Linked DNA regions of Homo sapiens: region 1 is linked to region 2. Evidence: fine-mapped expression QTL. A gene starts in region 2. The other region holds a variant in brackets. All regions are shown on one strand. Distances are between the middles of the regions. Region 1 holds the start of MIR6800 (microRNA 6800). Region 2 holds the start of PTOV1-AS2 (PTOV1 antisense RNA 2).

Region 1 (9,979 bases), 24 kb after region 2:
TCGGATCTTTACTCAACTATGGTGAATGCATGGAACATAATACAAACATGGATGTTACTGGAGTTTATATTTTTAAATTCAAAATTGAAAAAATACAAATTGAAAAATAGAAATATTTAATTATTAAAATTTTCTCTTTCATAATTCTTTTTGCGCCTTTGAGTTGAAGCCAAAAGGCTGGCGTCTTCCCTTCCACACCGAGATGTCAGTGTCAGGCCTCGGGTGGCACGGTGGGGACGGGCAGTTTAGAATTCAGCCTTGAATCCTTCAACTGGGAACGATGTTTAATTTGATTCAGGTTCGTAACGGAAAACAGCTGTTCACAAGCGTGGGTACTCCCAAACACAGATATTCAGGACAACTACTGGAGATAGTTGTAGAATCTCACCATCTTCACACAGACTTGTATTTAGGAACCAGCGCCGTATTGCACTGTAGTTCAATTACTATTTATGGTCTGCATTCACACAAGAAACATCTGCCAACAAAGGCAAACTGGACAATGTCTGTTCCTTCTCATGAGTCTGGATTCCGAGAGCCTTTGGGGGAATTTGGTCTTCAACCCCAGGACGTAGGTGAATACAGTCCGGGCCACCTCTTTCATTTCTGAAAGCCGACTGCAGCACAGGAAAGAGTAAAGGTTTTTTTTCCTTGCCGGTGGATTCCCCAGGACCAAGCATACACCATCATACATTCAAGTAGCTGTTTGTGGACATCCTTGCGGAGAAATATTCAGTGTTCAGAACGGTCATAACCTTGACCAGAAGTCTTTGACTAACCTTCTCAGGGGAACCCACTGTGGCTTTTGCCTGATTTAAAATGAACCAAGTTGGTTAACTTGAACAGTTCAGATTTCTTCCACAACCAAGTCACAGAGCTTCTGTGAAATCTCTCAGGTCAAGTCACCATCAACTCACTCGTGACTGAAGTCCAGGAGCGGAAGTGTCGAGAGCATCGCGGTGTGTTCTGTTCAGTTGCTCAGAACAAGTCAACTCCTGATGATGGATGCAACGACCCAACTTCCGTGTCCTTGCCAAATGCTGTCGCCTTGGATCAAGGTGTCCTGCCAAGTCCCCCTGTCATGACGCTGTCTGTAGTTGTGCTTCGGAACTCTGGCCAGTCTATGTGAAACTTTTCTCTCAATATACAAAAAAAATTAGTCCTTTCCCAGTGTTGGGCCTGCCTTGGCACCATGCCACAGACTTCTTCGGTCACATCAAGATTCTTAACACCACAAATAAATAAAGCTAACTGGGTGGTAATAGTTTATGAGCAGCGAAAGAAAAGGCCACAATCAATTTGACTCTTTCAAGCAACTGGACTTGTAAATCCCCCGAGTTATCTCCAACTCACTGTGCAACGCAAATGCCCGTTAGACTTAAATAACGGTCTCAACAGTCATGTGTTTCTGTGCAGGACACGTCACTCTGCTCCTTTATAAACTTGCCATCTGCTGTAGCTCTGAATGCCCAGGTCATTCTTCTCACGTGATTCCGGAACGGCGTACCACTGCCGCGCCACTTCTGTTAATTCGCTTTTCAAAACAAACCCTATTGACATTTGAGTCCCTTTTTCAGTTCGTTGAGGATGGCATCTCGAGTCTGTTCTGTGTACTGGTCGTAGCTCTTACTATGCTTTGATTCATAGTGGCGTTTCAGGTTGTATTCTTTCAACACAGACACGATTTGTTTGCATATTAAACACATAGGCATGCTCTTCACTTCCACAAAGAAATAGGCTCGCTCCCATTTTTCTCGAAACACACGGCCCTCTCCTTCTCTCTTTCGTTTTGCCGCTTGTGATAGAGACATGGGTACAAGAAAGATTTCACTTTCCTCTGAATGCTACCACAGAACAACCACAGTGCAAACCCCGTGACAAAGGCAGTGACTCTCTGCCTCACAGGGAAGCCAAGAGGGAGTGGTGGGGACTGTGGCGAACCAGAAAGCACACGCCCCATGGAGAGGGGCAGCTCCAGCCCATTGTTGCCAGGCAGAAGGGCGGGCCCAGGGGTGCCAATTCTTCTGACTTGTCAAAAGAAGCCAAGACTGCAGATTTTGTGTGTGTGCGTGTGTGTGTGTGAATTAACCTGATTTTTACAACTAACTCGTAAGAAAAAAATGCCACATATGCTAACACAGGGAAGGCCAAACAAAACTCATCCGCACGATGGCCCATAGGCCACCAGATTGCAATCTCTCTCCTGGGGTGGGGCCCGTGAATCTGTACGTTAACCAGCATGCAAAATGATGTGGATGCTGGTGGTCCAGGCATGGACCGCGCTCTCAGCAACACTGGTCCAGAGTCCAACAACAGACAACTCACTCACCACCTCCAGGAGAGACCACCCTGCGCTCCAAGCCTGTCTGGATCCCCCTGCCCTCGGGACGTCTCTGAGGACATCCTTCAGGTCCCTCACCTTGCCACGTCCCAAACCTGTTCCCTGCTGGGTATTCTATCCTGGGGACAGACCCACCGTCTTCCCCATCCACAGCCCTGGAAGGTCAGTCTCTGACATGGACCCAGGGACTGCCCTCTCTCCATGTGCGATCTTGTCTGCTTCTGTGGCTTGAACTGCCAAACATACACTGTCCCCTAAGGACACGTCCTGAGCTCCCAACATGGCACCTGTCACCTGGATGTCCCTTGGACCACCTGCACTTACTACCAGCTCCTTCTCCCAGGAGCCCCACCACCTACCATCACGTAGGCCTGGCCCCCGGGAGCGAACCTCTACCCCAGCCCCCGACACCGCCACCACCCAGCCTCACCTTTCCTGGCCTCCTGTCTGGCCTCATCACGCTCTACAGCTGAGAGGGGTCTTTCTGACATCCAGAGCTGGCCTAGGCCCGCCCCACTGCTCAAAGCCTCCTGGTTCTCCTGTGTCCCCAGGACAAACCATGGGCTGCTCAGTTTGGAATCCGAGCTCCTCAAACTCTGCACCTGCCCATCTCTCTAGCTCCCTACATGCTCATGCTCCAAAAGCATCCATCAACTTGCTCCTCTCAATGTCTCAGGCTTCCTCCTGCCTTTGAGTATTCAAAGTTTCTGTTGTCCTCTGCACCCAGATCACCCCTCACCTCCTTCCCTCCCAGCCTGACGGCTGATTCTCTTTCAAGACTCTGAGGAGCTGGGGCTGGGTCAGATGCCTCTTCCAGGCTCCCATGGTGCCCCTGCCACCTCCATGAGAGCTTGAGTCCTGAGCGCTGCCTGCCTGTCCCTGCATCTCCCACGAATCAGGTTGCACCAGACTGCCTGTGACTCACCACGGAGGCCCCAGCGTCATTCACCCAGGGCCCCAGGGATGTCTGCTGAAGTGAGAACAAGGACAGAGATGCCCCCTGGGGTTTCCTCCTGCCCAGTCCTGAGGGATGTCAGTGACGGGAGCCGGGGCGTGTGTTAAAAAGGAACTTTATTGGGTGTTGGGGATTCAGATGAGATCCATGAGGATGTCGTCCTCCATGACGCTGGGCTGCAGGCCCGGCTGGGGGACCGGGCCCCGGGGACCCCCGCTCAGCAGCATCTGACCTGAGGGGCAGTGGGGAAGGGACTGCATCTCCCAGTAGGCCCTTGGGCCCAGGAGGGCCCAGAGGCACTAAGTTTTCTAGGCAGCCCTTGGGGGACCCAACAGAAGCACCTTCTGGCCCCATCTAGTTACAAATATGCTGTTTCCCATGAGCCTTTGGGGGCCCTTCTCCAAAACTACTTCTCTGGCCCTAAGACCACATTTCCCAGCAATCCCAGGAGCACACACAGGAGGATCATGGGAAACGCTCTTAACCCACTAGGTCCTTGGACCCATGGGCTGTACTTTCCCGGAGCCCTCAGAGCTCCGCAAAGGCCATGGGGGAACCCTCATTCTTGGATCCTATGTCTTTACTTCCCAGGAGCACTCGGTCTTGGTGCTCTAGCCCAGGAGCTGCTGGGACACTCAGTCCAGACCTCTGCCCTCCCCCGGGTCCCCTTACCTGGCAGTGGAGCCCGAGGGGGAAGTTGTGCGGGCCAGGACTGGGCAGGTGGTGGATGCAGGAGTGGGGGCCCCAACTGGGGCTGCCCCAGGCCCTGGTGCGGCGGAGGCAGCAGCGCAGGAGCCCCTGGTGGCTGGAGGTGGTGGAGGGAGGCCTGGGGTGGGGGCACCCCAGTCTGCGGCTGGGAGAACACAGAGAGTGGCTCAGAGGCTCCTGGTAGAGACTCCCCACCTCTCAACACAGACACTGCTCAGAGATGGAATCAGCTAGTGGTGAGGGGAAGTTTTTCTTCAAAGGTGGGGGATGGACGGAGAGGAGGCGGTCTGCCTTCTGCCTAAAGCCCTGGGCGGGTCCCCATTCACACCCACTGACCACAGTCAACCTCCCTCCTCCCAGACAACAGGACCAGAACCACCAGGGCCAGGATCTGGAACTCTCGCTACCCCACCCCAACATCTCACCGGTGGTGGGTTGAGGAGGAGGCTTCGCAGCTGAGGGTTGGCCCCAGGGTTCTGGGGCCGAAGGATGGGTCCAGGAGGGGGTGGGCCAGAAGCTGCTCCAGGAGGGCCTTGAGGGGCACCTGGCGGGGGCTGGGCAGTACCTTGGGGCTGGGGCTGCCCCGTGGCCCCAGAGGCCCCTACGGTACCCTGAGGCTGGGGCTGCGGTGGGCGGAGCTGGAGCTGGTGGGAAGAGACACAGGGGTGAGGGAGATGGGCAGGGCCTCACGCCCCTTCTGCAGGCACAGAGCGCAGCCTTGGGGCCTCCCCAACCCAGCCCCGACCCCGCCAGCCCTGTCCTCACCAGATTCTGTGAGGGCCTGGCTTGGTCCTCCAGAATGGGCCCCAGCCCTGGGGGTGCCTGCTGTCCCCCCATCTGCACGGGGAGAGAGGGGCAGGTCAGTAACTGAGGGTGGTGGCATCCTGAATCTGAGGCGGGAGGGCCTGTGCCCTGAGGGGAACTAGTAAGGAGATGGGGACATTCTCTTTGGGGGTGAGTGGTCTGGGAGGGATGCCGTACACTCCAAGGTCTCCAGGAGGAAGCTGTGTCAGGGCTTTGATGTGGATGCTGAAAAAGGAGAGAGACTGCAAGAAAATCTGAGTGGGACTTAGCTTGGAGGCACCACATATTGGGAGAAGGGTGGGCATCTTGGTCCTGGAGACCCCAGGGGGCCATGTGGGGCCCGGGCAGGAGGGGGTCGGAGTGCTGGTTTGGGGACTGTCAACACTCACTCCTCGCTGCTGCTGCTCCAGCTTCTGCTGCTGGACCTGCTTGTGGTTGGTGATGACCTGCCGGATGCCGTTGACGAAGCCGCTCTGGTCGTAGGGGATGAGGCCCATGAAGATCTTCTTCTTGGACGAGTACAGGAGCATGAGCACGCGCACCTCACAGGGCGCCGTGTGGGGGAAGTGCACGCAGCCCGCCTGGGTGGACAACAGCTCTTCAGAACCATTCAGGCCCTGAAAGAGGCAGCCCTGACCCCCTCCCCATTCCAGAAGGCTCTAGAGGCCCCACAGGCAAGGTGAGGTGAGGTTTCTGCTATAGAAGGTTAAGGAGAACAGGTGTGCTATGGGTTGCTCTGGAGACAGAAACTGAGGCGCTCAGGGCAAGCTAGGGTTCCAGCTGCCCACTGAGAGGGAAAGC[G/A]GAGAGAAAGTGCTGGAGCCCAGCTCTTCAACCTTCAGCCACCACCTGCTCCTCATGGACCCAGTTTCTTGGGCATAAAATGCCACGGCGGCCTCCTCAGAGGGCGGCTGAGGGTCACGGCCGGGAGAGCGGCCTAGATGCACAGCGTGGTACCCACAGGCCTGTGATCAACGGTGGGTCGGACCCCGGGTATCCAAGAGATCCTCCAGCCCTCAGCACCGGCCAGTGTACACCACGGGGAGTGCTCCCACATCACAGGGTCGCTGTGACTATGCGATGTCTGATCCACAGCAAGAGCCCTGCCTGAGGCTCAGCCCACAGGAAGCACCCAGGAAACATCACTGGTCATCAGGGGGGTAACACATGGAGCATTCAGGGCAGGGGCTCCTGAGGGAGGCGAGGCTGACCTTGGCCAAGTGAATTGACTTCTCTGAGCCTCGGTTTCCTGCCTGAGACAGACCCTGCTAGCTGCCTATTCCATATCCAAGTGTCCTCCTCCCCTGCATTCCCAATGCTGTCTGGGGCTGTAACATGTCCCAGCCCCAGACAGTCACGGATACCTGCTCCCAGCAGCCTCCCATCAACTAGGGGCTGCCCAGTGGCCTAGGTCCGGGATAGGAGGTGAAAGGAATGCCTGCTCTGGAATCTGAGAAAGTTTCTGCTGTCTTGAAGAAAGGGAAACACACAGCCCCCTTCCCCTCCTTCATGAAAGCACACAGGATGCGTGGAGCCATGAGAGCTACCTTGTGACTATAAAGGAGAGGCCAAGAGAACCACAGGGCCCTGTCCCTGATGTCACAGACCTATGAAACCAATCCCAATAGCTGGCCCCCTCTAGATGTCCTGTCCTGTGCAAAATATAAATGCCTGCTCCTACAACGCCTGCCCTCTCAGAACCCAGCTGCCACAGTGTGGCCACGTGGACAGGCCATGTGCAGACACTGGGATGGCCGGTCCTAGCCAAGCCCCAGCCAACAGCCAGGGCTGTGTGAGGAGCTGTTTTGAACATCCAGCCCAGTAAAGGTTTCAGATGACCAGAGTCTCAGCTGCCATCTGATGGCAACCCCGTGAGAGTCGCCAAGCGAGATGGCCCACTGAGCCCAGGTGACCCACAGAATCATAAGAGAACATTTTTTCCGAGTGCCCCCAATTATCTATGTGTTTGGGAAACTACGTGATTTGCAGCCGGAAGTACTAACTCTCAGGAATGCCTTCTTCACAAGGTTCTGTGAGGGTCTCGTGAGGTGATCCCCCTAAGGTTCTCTTTCCTGCAGGAGTGCCTGGTGCACGGAAGTAACTGATCTGCTCCTTCCCCGAGTTACAAAGTGTGAACTGTGACTCCCAGAAAGCTATGCTGAGGCTGGGCGCGGTGGCTCACACCGGTAATCCTAGCACTTTGGGAGGCCGAGGCAGGCAGATCACTTGAGGTCAGAAGTTCGAGACCAACCTGGCCAACATGGTGAAACCCTGTCTCTACTAAAAAATACAGAAATTAGCTGGGCATAGTGGCACATGCCTGTAATCCCAGCTACTTGGGAGGCTGAGGCAGGAGAATCGCTTGAACCCAGGAGACGGAAGTTGCTGTGAGCCAAGATTGCACCACTGCACTCCAGCCTGGCTGACAACAGTGAAACTCTGTCTCAAAAAACAAAACCAGAAAGCTAAGCTGAGGTTCCAGTCCCCAGCACCTGTGAAGGTGACTCTATCTGGAAAGAGGGTCTTTGCAATTGTAGTAAGATGAGGTCAGGAAAATGGGGCCTAATCCAAAATTACTGATGTCCTTATAAGCACAGACACAAAGATACAGAGAGAATGCCATGTGGAGACACACACAGAGGGAAGACAGCTGCGGGATGGAGGAAGACCCTGGAGCGATGCCACCTGAAGCCTGGGGTTACCGGCCGGAAGAGGCAACGAAGAGGCCTTCCCTCCAGCCTCTAGAGAGAGCGTGGCCCTGCTGACACCCTGACCTTGGGCTTCTGGCCTCCAGAACTGGGATAGAACACGTTTCTGTTGTTTTAAGCCCCTCTGCTTGTGGTAATGTGTTACCACAGCCACAGGAAATGAACACATCCCATAAAGCCATGCCAGAATCAACAGCTTCCTCCTAACTGATCCTGTCACATCCAGCTCACATTTTTAATGTGGAATATCCCTCAAATCTGGTGCATACGATGATTATAATAAAAGTCACGGCTCTAGAAGAAAGGCGAGGAACCTAAGGGCATGAAGTGCACCCAACCATCAAAAACGGCTTCCGTGGGCCCAGGCACTCTGGGATTCCCGTCAAAGGTCAGCAGAAAGCAGGACAAGAGTCAACACCCCTCGGCCCCCCATGCCCTGGACTCACGAAGCCGTTGCCCATGATGCGGTAGAGGCCTTTGAGAGACTCCAGGTCCTTGTTGGTGAAATGGAACTGGACCATCCTTGAGTTCCGGAACAAAGGGCCCAGGGTGGTCTGCGGGAGACACAGAAGTCGGCTGGCATGCTGGTGTGGGCAAGTGAGGCGGGGACATGAGGCAGGGAGTGGGGGTGGGGCAGGGAACAGGAAAGAGACAGCAGGGTGAGGACTGCCCGGCAGCAGGGCTGGCCCTCCACCGCCACTCACCAGCAGCTGCTGGGGGATGAGCTGCATGATCAGCTTCTGGGGCCACTGCTCCGTCTTCCTGGGGGCGATGCCAGGAGAGGTGTGAGGAGGGGGCCAGCCCCAGCCCCACCACACCCCGCCCCTGACTGTCACCTACAGGTTCTCGCCATGATTCACGTAGACCTGGCAGGGCAGTGACCGCGTCAGCTTGGTGTTGGCATCCACTGAGGCAGGTTTGGGTTTCTGAGGGGGAAAAAAGAGCATGTCAGTAAAAAGGGCCATAAGCCTCAGTCCCCTTGAGCCCTCATGTCCTACCCTGGTAGCCCCAAAGCTCAGGATGTTCCCCAGTTTAAGTCCCATGAGCCCCAGGCCCCTCCTCCAGACCAGCAAGCCTTCAGTTCCTCAAATGTTACAGCTACGTGCCCGGCCCCTAAATCCCACCATCCACTGTGCCCCAGATGATACATCGCCTGGGCTCTTCTCTGGGCCCCAAATCCTGGGCTTTTCTGGGTTCTTTGCATGGGGACTCTCCTCTGTACCGCAAGTCCCACCACTCCATGGGGCTCCTGGCCTCGCCCCGCATCCCACAGGTCCAGCGCAACGAATGCCTCCAAACCCAGCACTGCAGACCCCACGCATCTGGCCCCATGAGTCCTACATGCCCAGCCCCACGGCCCCAGGAGTCCCAAGTGCCCAATGGACCCTCAGGCCCCTCACCTCTTGCCACTCCAGGACCCCGCTCCAGGCCAGAAGCTTATTGGAGACTGACTGCTGCCCACCGAGGGCTGGGGCTCCCAGCTGGGCTGGGGAAGGGCCGCTCACCCCTCCTGGGGCCACAGTGCCTGCCTGCCAGAGGGGAGGAAGGAGGGCCATGAGAATGGGGAAGGCCGGGAGCCTCCGGGGGCCATCCTGTGAGGGCAAACCAGGAAGGAGGAAAGATCCCTTCTTCTGCCCCTCCATCCCCAGAACAGCACTTGGCCAGCCGCAGGACCCCAAATGCTTGGACCTTGCAGGATTCGAGGACTCGTAAGCTGTGCGATGCCCTGGACTCCCAGACCCAGGGATTCCTTGGGTTTCTCGGAACAGCCCTGACCCTCCTGGAGCCATGAGCCTCCCCACTCTGTCCCCAGACCCTCATCTCAGGCATCTGCAGCACACACACCACGAGCCCCCAAAGCCCCAGAACCACGAGAGCCACATCCCCCTGGAAGGCAAATGACTCATCCTCTAACTGTCCTAGCTGTGGACAGCAGGAGGAAGGAGCAGGGGCAGGAGGCGTGCAGGCACCTACCATGGACGGTGCCCCGGGCTGTGCCGTGGGAGCCAGGCCGGAGCCAGGGGCCACAGTGGAGACCAGACTGGGCTGGGAAGCAGGTGGTGGCTTGGGGGCGCCAGGGGGTCCTGGGGGTAGTTGGGGAGCTGGGGCCTGGCTGAAGGGGGGACCCACTCCGGGAGCAGCTTGTTGGAGAGGGGTGATGGGCGAGACTGTGGGAGAGACCAAGGGAAGAAGTGGGGAACAAGTGTGTGGAGAGAGGCCTGCCTGGCCCCTGCCCGCCCTTCATCCTCACTCCAGGACTCACAGCGAGGGCCCAGCCCAGCCTTCTGGTTCTTGGCAGCCTCCACTGCATTCTGCGCGGCCACCTGAGCTGCACTCAGGTTCCCGGGAACCTGTGGGTAGAAGGGAAGAAGGGAAGGGACTGGTGAGGACCATGGCCCCCCAGTCCTGGTATCCCACGAGGTCACACCACCCATGGCCCCATGAGGCACCAGCTGGGATAGCTTA
Region 2 (9,979 bases):
GGCTGGGAGCTATGTGGGGGCACAGAGATCCAGAGCGAGGGCTTTAGACTCCAGGGTAAGCGGGGCGGAGGCCTCAGGCAGTGTGATGCTGATAGGAACCCATCATCAGCTACAAATTCTGGGCTGGGGTGGCATCCAGTAGGTGCTTGAGGGGGAGCTAAAGCTGGTGGCCCCCTCCCATCCACAGGTGCTGGTGGCCACGCACGCAGGCTTGTACCGGAAGCCGGTGACGGGCATGTGGGACCATCTGCAGGAGCAGGTGAGTCTTGCAGCCTGCCCGGCCCCCCTCCTTTTCCTCACTCCAGCCCCTCACTCCTGGGCTCCCCGGCCTCCGGTTGGGGCCTCCTTACTCCTCTGTCCTCTCTCGCTCCCTCCTTCTGTTTTTTGCTGTGACATCTTAGATGTTGGTTTACGAGACCAGTGCTTTCAGACTTTCTACATCAGAGTAGTAGGGAAGCTGTTCATTCCTTCGTTCATTCGTTTGTGTGTGCATTTGTTCTGAAGTTTAGCGCATTCTTGAGCTGAAGGTATCAGTGAGCGGGACGGCCTGCTCCAGCAGGGCCCTCACGGCGAGGGCGGTGACTCTAGGCGGATGGGCAGACTGGCGTGTAAAACAGCAGGAGGGAGGGAGCTGGAGAAAGCAGGCATCACCCGTGGTGGGCAGGGATGGCCTCTGAGGAGGTGACATCAGAGGAAAAGGCCTAAGGCAGGGAAAGGAGGGAGCCAGGTGGACACCTGGGGAAAGCGGTCCCCCCCCTTGTGGGAGTGACAGCAAGTGCAAAGGCCCTGAGGCAGTCCCTAGCCTGGGCTAGTTAGGGACAGCGAGGCCCATGCGGCTGGCTCTAAGCGAGGGAGGGGAGAGGGCAGGGCCACAGGGAGGGCCCCGCTTTTGCCCTGAGGGAGGGGGAACCTGGGAGGCGCCGGCACGCCGGAGGCTGGAGCTGTAGCAGGGTGGGTGCCCTCCGGTGGCCGCGTGGGGAACGGGAGGAGGTGAAGTCGGGAGACCTGGAGGGAGGGGGCTGTGTGGAGAGACCACGGAGGGGGGAGGGGGCCAGGAGCACGGTGCAAAGTGGCTGGAGAGTGAGGACATGAAAGGTCGGGGGATGATTCCTGATGTGGGGCACAGACCAGGCGAAGCAGCCCCAGGGACCCGCTACCGCTGCGGGGGGACATTTGTGGGAAGGGCCTCCTCACTACCGTCTCCCGTAGGCCAACGACGGCACGCCCATATCCATCGGGGACAGCATCTTTGTGGGAGGTAAGGGCCTGGAGGCTGCTGAGGGTGGGCTGGGACGCCTCCCTCCGAGCTGGTGGGAACGGGGTGTCCCGTGTGTTCCAGACGCAGCCGGACGCCCGGCCAACTGGGCCCCGGGGCGGAAGAAGAAAGACTTCTCCTGCGCCGATCGCCTGGTGAGGCCCCTGCCCCCTGCCCCGCGCCCGAGCCCGACCCTGGCCTGTGTCTGATGTTCGTCCTCAACCCCTAGTTTGCCCTCAACCTTGGCCTGCCCTTCGCCACGCCTGAGGAGTTCTTTCTCAAGTGGCCAGCAGCCGGCTTCGAGCTCCCAGCCTTTGATCCGGTGAGGCCCTGGGGCGGGGGTGGGGGTGGGGATGGGAGGGCTCCCGGGGATGGGGACGGCATCTCACGCGTGTCCCCCGCCCCTCGCAGAGGACTGTCTCCCGCTCAGGGCCTCTCTGCCTCCCCGAGTCCAGGGCCCTCCTGAGCGCCAGCCCGGAGGTGGTTGTCGCAGTGGGATTCCCTGGGGGTAAGTGTCCTGTTCCTGTGCGCGTGCCCTGAGCCCCGCCTGGGTCCTAGGCCACCCACCGACACTGCCCCCCACACAGCCGGGAAGTCCACCTTTCTCAAGAAGCACCTCGTGTCGGCCGGATATGTCCACGTGAACAGGGTATGACCAGGCTTTTGCCGCCCCAAATCTATTATAAAGTTCCCATCTCCACCTCTCAACTGGTTTGGGGCGGCTTTCCTCCATCATTGCCTCCCCGTCCCCGCTCGGGGTCTTCTCTCCCCCTGGGTCTGCCGATCTGTTTGTGACCTCTCGTGTCCCCAGGACACGCTAGGCTCCTGGCAGCGCTGTGTGACCACGTGTGAGACAGCCCTGAAGCAAGGGAAACGGGTCGCCATCGACAACACAAACCCAGACGCCGCGAGCCGCGCCAGGTAGCGTGACCGCGGGGCCGTAGGTGGCCTGCGGCGGGGTGGGCGGGGCCTGCACATCCAGCTCCTTCCCCCACAGGTACGTCCAGTGTGCCCGAGCCGCGGGCGTCCCCTGCCGCTGCTTCCTCTTCACCGCCACTCTGGAGCAGGCGCGCCACAACAACCGGGTGAGCCCGCTCAGCCCGGACACCCCCCGGGCTGCACCCCCTGACCCCCCTCCTCCCCTGACCCCTGGGCCTGCCGCCCCTCTGATGTTCCCCACAGTTTCGAGAGATGACGGACTCCTCTCATATCCCCGTGTCAGACATGGTCATGTATGGCTACAGGTACTGTTGGGGATAGCAGGGGGCAGGGGCACTGGCTGGGCCACATGATCCAGGCTGTCCCTCACTGTTCCCACCACTGCCAGGAAGCAGTTCGAGGCCCCAACGCTGGCTGAAGGCTTCTCTGCCATCCTGGAGATCCCGTTCCGGCTATGGGTGGAGCCGAGGCTGGGGCGGCTGTACTGCCAGTTCTCCGAGGGCTGAGCCCCGCCCAGCTCCCCTCCACAATAAACGCTGTTTCTCCTTGAGCTTGGCCGGCATTTTGCTGGAAGGAGGGTGGTCCCCACGGGGGAGGGGCTCCAGGCCTGCCAGTTTCTTACATGGAGGAGGCTTTAAGGACATTTTCAGGTAACAAAAGGTGGGGCCCTACCGAGGGGAGTCCAGCTGGGACCTGGCATGAGCACTTTAGACATTAGCCGGGGAACACACAGGGAGGGCGCTGTGTGGCCCCCCGAGAGCCAGCTGGTGAGCCCACGAGCCTCAACCGAGGGGCTGGCTCAAGGCCAGGTGTGACCCCTGAGGACAAAATCCAGCTCAGGTTCTGTGACACTGAACTTGAACCCAAGGCCTGCGGGTCTGGAGATTCGGGGGGGAAGAGGGTGTGGACAGCCGAGAGCCAGACCCAGTGAGTTCCCGGGCTGTCCAGCCTGCTGGGCCACCTTAGAGCTAGGGGGCTGCAAGGCATCGGGCAGTGAGCAGAGAAGGCAGGCAGGTTTTTAAAAGGCTTTATTGGGGAAACGTAGAGGGGTGGGGACCGTCCTTGGAGGCCTCAGGACACCATCCTCCATGTTGCTGGGCAGTTGAAGTCCCCAGGGGCCCCTGCTCAGAAGCGTGTCACCTGGGGGCAGGGGTGCAGTGGGGGCTGCTGGCCACAGGCTCCCAAGCACTGACCCCACATCCCTGTGAGCAGAGGCCTGGCCCCACCCAGGCCTGGATACCACCTCCCATGGCCCTGAGGCTGGGCTGCAGTTTCCCGACAGCCTAGGACCGCTGGGACTGCTGCCTCTCCCTCTGCTCTGCTCTCCCCAAGGCCAAGGTCGCCCTGCTTCTTTCCCAACCCCACCCCCCCCACATGCCCCAGGGTCCCTCCTGTACATGACAGGGTCACCACTCACCAGTCTCTGCGGGGGCCTCATCTGTGACTCCTGGAGGGGCCCAGCCCGGGGTAACCACTACCCCCCCATCTACGGCGAGAAATCAGAGGCCAGTGGTGAGCAGGCAGCGGGGGTGGAGGGAGACTGAGCAGCCCTGGAGGCCGGCCACCTCACCCCTCGTTGCTGTTGCTCCTGCTCCAGGTTCCGCTGCAGGACCTGCTGCTGGTTGGCAATGACACGCCGGATGCCGTTGACAAAGTTGCCCTGGTCATGGGGGATGAGGCCAATGAAGATTTTCTTCTCTGAAGAGTACAGGAGCATAAGCACGCGGATCTCACACGATGCTTTGTAGGAAAAGTGCACGCAGCCGGCCTGGCAGGCACAGGGCGTGGTGTCACCAGACAGCACCACAGGGACCAGCATCCCTCCAACCACGGCATCATGCCGTGGGCTCCATGAGCCAGGCACAGCCTAACTGCTCTGTCCTCACACCCCCCACCCACCCTGGAGGTGGGCCCCCTTATTGGGATGACACGGTGGCCAAGAGCAATGGGTGGGCCAAAGGCCAACAGGCTCTGTCGGGAAGGGCCCAAGAACCTGCATTTCAGAGCTCCTGGGCAGGCCAGGCTGTGTCTGGGGCCACCTCACCACAGCCACCTGAGCCAACCGGCCATGGCTTCAACTCAGGAGCCCGAGGGATCTGCAGCGGCCGGCCCAGCACAAGCAAGGGCTGAGGTACATGGAGCCTTTCTGGGTTTCCTTGAGGAAACTTTTTTTTTTTTTTTGAGACTGAGTTTCGCTCTTGTCGCCCAGGCTGGAGTACAATGGCATGATCTCAGCTCACTGCAACCTCTGCCTCCCGGGTTCAAGCCATTCTTGTGACTCAGCCTCCTGAGTGGCCATCATGCCTGGCTAATTTTTGTATTTTTAGTAGAGACGGGGTTTCACCATGTTGGCCAGGCTGGTCTCAAACTCCTGACCTCAGGTGATCCACCCGCCTCGGCCTCCCAAAGTGCTGGGATTGCAGGCGTGAGCCACCGCACCCGGCCCCTGAGGGAATGCTTGAAATTGCTTTCATGTAAAAGCACCTACACCCAGGCCCCCCCCACCCACGAACAGCTTCGTGGACAGTTTACTCAGACTGAGTCGAAGGTAATTTTAAGGTAGTTTCGGGATATTACCCAAGTATGGCCCAGCTGGAAGGTGGACATCGGGGGGAGGGCTCAGAAACACCAAAGTCCAACCTTCTCCACCTCACAGATGGAGAAACTGAGCCCGAGAGAGAGAAGAGGAGTCAGCTGAGCCTCCCCCAGATAAGACAATCGCCAAATATTCTGGGACCTTGCTGGGGGCAGACAGCCCTCCCTGCCCAGCAATGGGCCTTTGGGATGTGGCACAAGCTCCCGGGAAACCAGGAGTGACAAGGGCGCCTGTCCCTGAGGAGTGGAGAGCGCGGAGTTGGTGCTGAGTCAGCCCTGATGTGGCAGAGGAGGAGCAGGCCCCCGCAGAACCAGGGTCAGTGCCCCATCCAGTGCCGTGGGGACAGCACAGAGCCCCCAGAAGTCACGCCCACACTAGCCACCCTCTCTCCCCAGCTGGTCTGGGACATGGTGCTCTGTTCCTCTCCCATGTCCGCCCCCGTGAGCGGTCCGGGCTCGCTCTGCCCTGGCCGGCCCCTCCCCTGCGTCTGCTGGCACCACTCACGAAGCCATTGTCCATGATCCGGCACAGGCTCTTCAGTGTCTCCAGGTCCTTGGTGAAGTGGAACTGGACCAGGCGCGAGTTCCGGAACAGCGGCACTAGGGTGGTCTGCGGGGAAGCGAGGGGACCCCCAGCTCTGGCTTCTCCCACCACGGCCTCCCGGCTCCCAGCCCGCTGAGTCCCCCGGGCCCAGGACCAAACTGAGACTCCCCTGTCCTCCCTACCTCAGGAAACGTCATCTCCACCGCTCAACCAGCCCAACCCTGGAGTGCTGTGGAAGCCGCTCTCAGATCCCTTGGCAGCCCCCCAGGTGCAGGTCGTGGCTGCCCCTGCCCCGCTCAGTCCCTGCACAGCCACCAGCTGGCTGCCTGGGACCCCTTGAAGCCAAGCCTGAGGAGCTACCCACCACACCTGCTTCAGCACCCTCAGCTCCGCTCCCTCACAGCCAGCTCAGGCCACCTGGGGAGGCGCTCTTGCCCCCAGCCCCGCCCTCTGGAAGAGCTACTGCGTGCAGGCTCCAGCACCCGGCCCCAGCCCCTCACCAGCAGCTGCTGCGGGATGAGCTGCATGTACAGCTTCCTTGGCCACTGCTCGGTCCTCCTGTGGGGCACAAAGGGACGAGGGTCAGGAAGCCCCAGCTCCCCTGGATGCTGCCTCCACCCCCCAGCCCAGCACTCACAGGATCTCCCCCTGGTTCACGTAGACGTGGGATGGCAGCCACCTCTTGGACCGACTGTTGGGCTCAGGCCTGGGCTTTTGGGGGAGAGGCAAAGAGGAGCCCTCAGGGCTGGAGACCCCCAATGCCAGTGTCCCCTCCCAGCCACAGTCCGTGAGGATCTGGGGGTCCCAAGTCCCTGGGCTGCCGAGTGCTCACCTCCTGCCACTCCATGACACCACTCCATGCCAGAAACTTGTTGTTGACGATCTGGACTGGGCCTGAGTTGACACCACCAGGTCCCACTGCCTGTTGGAAGGGAACGGGGTGGGAAGAGGGGCCCAGGCTCCTGGGAAACCTGTCTGTCTGTCCTGGGGCCTGCCATCCCTCCCTCCGAGCCTTGGCCTGTTAGCCCCAGCTGGGTCCATTCTCTAGTCCCAGGGGAACAGGCCCTGCCCCTCATCTGCTCACAGCCCCCCATGGCTCCCCAGTGGCCTGAGACAGGTCCCGGCCCTCACCTGGTGCACAGGACCTGCAGAGTCTGCCTCAACTGGCAAGGCATGACCAGGACACGTGGTTACCAGGCAGGGCCTTCCAGCCGCAGGACGATCCCAACCCCTGCCCAGCTCCCCGCTCCGCTGGCTTCCCTGCCGCCGCGCCAAGACCCACCCTCCAGCCCTGCAGAGCCGCCCAGTGGCCGCTTTTCCATGGAGCCCTGGTGGGAACCCGCCCGGCATCCTCCGGGCTCCCCTGCAGCTCCTTGCTCCAGCCATCGCATCACACTCCGCCCACACCAAGTCTGGCTGCCCAACCAGGGCAGTGGGGTCTAATCCCCCTCTGTCCCCAGAGGGGCTGTGCTTGGCTGGCACACCTGCTTGCGGGTGGTGATGACCTGCCGGATGGCACTGACGAAGCCGCTCTGGTCGTAGGGGATGAGGCCCATGAAGATCTTCTTCTTGGACGAGTACAGGAGCATGAGCACGCGCACCTCACAGGGGGAGATGTGGGGGAACAGCATGCAGCCCGCCTGCGGGGGCCGCGGGTCAGGACCCTGTGGTCACTGCCCGGGGCCACTGTGCCCCCACCACCCTGGACCGCCCCACCTGTAGGGGATGAAGGGAGATCATCGGTGGACAGAGGCCCCCACAGTCAAGGCCATGGCCATAGGTGAGGGGCCTCTGAGAGCCCGTGCAGCGCCCATCGGCATCCCCCGACCCTGCCATGGCTGAGGTCAGAGTGGCACCCGGCACCCAGGCTGCGGTGAGAATGCCAAGAAGGCACTACCTCCCACCCACATCACCCCCTGCCGCCAGCCCTCCTGACTGCCTGATGGGGTGACTTGGCCTGGGGGTTAAGAGCACAGGCAGCGCCCCACCGTTCTGCTGCCTCCTAGCTGTGTGACCTAACACCAGCCACCTCCTGCTTCTGGGCCTCCATCATCTGTAAAACCGGGTAATAGTGCACACAGTTGGTGCCACATAAAGGCTCAACAGATAAAGTGCTGGTGCCTCTTGAGGATGGCGCATGGGAGAACTAAGCCTGACAGATGTGCCTGGCTGTGGTGTCTAGATGAAGTGGTGTGACCGTCCCAAAACCCCATGTCCCCTCCCCACACCGGGCCACCCCCACAGTGCTGTCCCCTCCACGCTGCCGGCCTAACTTCTCAACCTTGGTGTCCAGCCCAGGGATCACCCGCTCAGGGCCCTGTCCCTGGCCTCCCTGGAGCCATGCACAGTCAGCCTCCCAGGGCCATGCCTGGGGGGTGAGTATGGATGTCCACTTTCCCTACAGACTGGGTACTCGGGGCCCAGATATGGCAGGCCCTCAACAAACGGTGCTGGGTGAAGGGGGAACGGGTCACTTAAGAGACCTCATGCCAGGCACAAGCCCTGGTCTGCCCCTGGTCTCCTGAGGGAGAAGGGAGGCCCTAGCGGAACCCAGGGCGCTCAACGGCAGCTGGGACGGGTAGAGGCAGACTGTCCCAACAGGGAACAGGGACTGGGAATGTCCCAGAGCCAGGTCCTCTGGGCAGACAACTCGCTCCCACCCCACCCCTGCCTCCTCTCCAGCACCTGCCATCTTTCACAGCCCAAGCCCCCTTTCTGACCTGCCCTGCGCCAGAATCTCAGTCACCTGAACAGCCTCACCAGCTGGGTTCACCCAGCACTCACTAGGTACTAAAGTCACCATCTCAAGCGCTTTACACAAATTCCCTCCCTCCAGCCTCCCGGTGGCCCTAGGAAGCACGGCTCCCCTGTCCTCCCTACCTCAGAAAATGTCATCTCTACCCCTCAACCAGCCCAACCCTGGAGTGCTGCGGAAGCCGCTCTCAGATCCCTTGGCAGCCCCCCGGGTCCAGGTCATGGCCGCGCCTGCCCCACTCAGTCCCTGCACAGCCACTGGCTGGATACCTGGGTCCCCTTGGAGCCAGGCCTGAGGACCTACTCACCGCGCCTGCTTCAGCACCCTCAGCTCTGCTCCCTCACGGCCAGCTCAGGCCACTCGGGGAGGTTAGCCCATTTTACAGACCAGAATACCAAGCCCCAACGTGCCACTCCCTCCTGGCTGGCTCTTGTGCCTAGCACACCCATTTACCAGGTCCCTGCCATACGCTATGTGTCCCCGACAGGCTCCTGGGCCCCAACAGGGCTGGCCCCAGTCCCTCCCTGCACTCACGCCCCCAGGGCCACCTCGAAGCTGGGCACAGATGCAGAAACTGGAGGCCTCTCAGGCTGAGTTCCTTCACCCTGTGCTCTACGGAGGGTGCCTGGAGTCAGTCATTTCCAGATGGGGTCCGAGAGGCCACGAGGGCTACCCTCGGCCCCAGGGGAGACCCCCCGACCCCCGCCTGGACTGTGTGAGCAGAGCGCTGCCTCCAGCTGTACTTGTCACCACAGTGCTACAAGGGAGCCCGCCCCACTCACGAAGCCGTTGCCCATGATGCGGCAGAGCCCCTTGAGCGAGTCGCAGTCTCTGTTGGTGAAGTGGAACTGTGCCAACTGGGAGTTCCGGAACAGGGGGCCCAGGGTGGTCTGGGGGCGACAGGACAGACAGCTGGGTCAGCCAGGCATGGGGGTGCTCAGAGTGGATGGGGTGGGAGGGGCGGGTCTCACCAGCAGCTGCTGAGGGATCAGCTGCATGATCAGCTTCTGCGGCCACTGGTCGGTCTCCCTATGGGAAGGAGCTGGTCAGAAAGGGCTGCCCTGATCCCCACGGCCACAGCCACTGCCCCTGCCACCGCCCTGGCTGCCACGCCCCGGCACTCACAGGTTCTCGCCTTGGTTCACGTAGGCTTGGCAGGGCAGGGTCCGCTTCAGCTTTGCAGTGGAGTCAGAGTAGGGTCTGCGCTTCTGTGGGGGCAGGAGGGGCGTCACTGTGCACAGCCTAGATGCCCTGGCCTGTCCCCGCAGGGACAAGACAAGACCCTGGAGGCCAGCCGCAGCCCCACAGAGACTCACCTCCTGCCACTCGAGGACGCCGCTCCAAGCCAGCAGCTTGTTGCTGAGCCGGTGCTCGCTCACGGCCAGACCCCCGAGGGTGAGCCCAGGTGAGGAGGGACCGATGGGACCCAGTGCCCCGAAGACCCGAGCACCTTCCTGCAATGGAGTGGGGGATAGGTGGGAAAACTGAGGCCGGGGCCTGCAAGGACAGGCAGTCCCCACACACCCCAGAGGGGACGTCCCAATATTCAGCCCCAAATCCCCTGCTGGAAGCCCACGGGGCCATGTCCAAACCCTCTGCTCACCCCTCAGGACCCCCACACGCTGGTCCTCATGTCCTTTCCCGCTGCCCACCCTCAGGACCCTTCCTTCCCAGAGCCTGCTGTCACCTTGACACTGGCCCAGCAGAGTCCTGAAGCCTTCAGCCAGCCCCACCTCCAGCCTTTGCCCCAGCTGTGCGCCTGATCGATTCTTGAGACCCAAGTTAGAAGCCAGCTGTAGGGGGCTTTCCCCGTGCCCCAGGCTGGGCCCAGGGCTTCCTTGCAGCCTCCACAGGCACAAGCCGGCTTGCGCTGTGTCTGTCCCACACACCA

Evidence for each region.
Region 1: its variant is fine-mapped to the expression of PTOV1-AS2 in whole blood (TOPMed, PIP above 0.99).

The regions. Positions count from the first base shown.
Region 1 is chr19:49,830,396-49,840,374 of GRCh38, reverse strand. MED25 (mediator complex subunit 25) reads right to left here. Exons shown (of 18, transcript NM_030973.4): 8 at 9,777-9,864; 9 at 9,488-9,681; 10 at 8,914-9,042; 11 at 8,354-8,439; 12 at 8,218-8,275; 13 at 7,960-8,067; 14 at 5,198-5,389; 15 at 4,770-4,841; 16 at 4,430-4,648; 17 at 3,969-4,149; 18 at 3,396-3,528. The coding sequence ends at 3,431. MIR6800 (microRNA 6800) reads right to left here and starts at 8,357; the gene lies at 8,276-8,357. It overlaps PTOV1-AS1 (PTOV1 antisense RNA 1), which reads left to right. Exons shown (of 4, transcript NR_040037.1): 4 at 299-1,730. RefSeq lists enhancers at 4,815-5,315, 5,316-5,816. The variant G/A (reference allele first, on the strand shown) is at 5,610.
Region 2 is chr19:49,853,969-49,863,947 of GRCh38, reverse strand. PTOV1-AS2 (PTOV1 antisense RNA 2) reads left to right here and starts at 4,659. Exons shown (of 5, transcript NR_110730.1): 1 at 4,659-4,742; 2 at 4,851-5,105; 3 at 5,322-5,394; 4 at 5,521-5,601; 5 at 6,876-7,483. PTOV1 (PTOV1 extended AT-hook containing adaptor protein) reads right to left here. Exons shown (of 12, transcript NM_001394010.1): 2 at 9,405-9,542; 3 at 9,214-9,296; 4 at 9,060-9,117; 5 at 8,871-8,978; 6 at 6,818-6,973; 7 at 6,166-6,255; 8 at 5,971-6,044; 9 at 5,834-5,891; 10 at 5,295-5,399; 11 at 3,765-3,962; 12 at 3,206-3,680. The coding sequence ends at 3,669. PNKP (polynucleotide kinase 3'-phosphatase) reads left to right here. Exons shown (of 17, transcript NM_007254.4): 8 at 188-259; 9 at 1,210-1,258; 10 at 1,340-1,410; 11 at 1,485-1,577; 12 at 1,667-1,763; 13 at 1,843-1,904; 14 at 2,067-2,176; 15 at 2,253-2,340; 16 at 2,438-2,499; 17 at 2,583-2,744. The coding sequence ends at 2,700. MIR4749 (microRNA 4749) reads right to left here and starts at 9,357; the gene lies at 9,297-9,357. RefSeq lists enhancers at 7,626-7,675, 7,706-7,765, 9,950-9,979.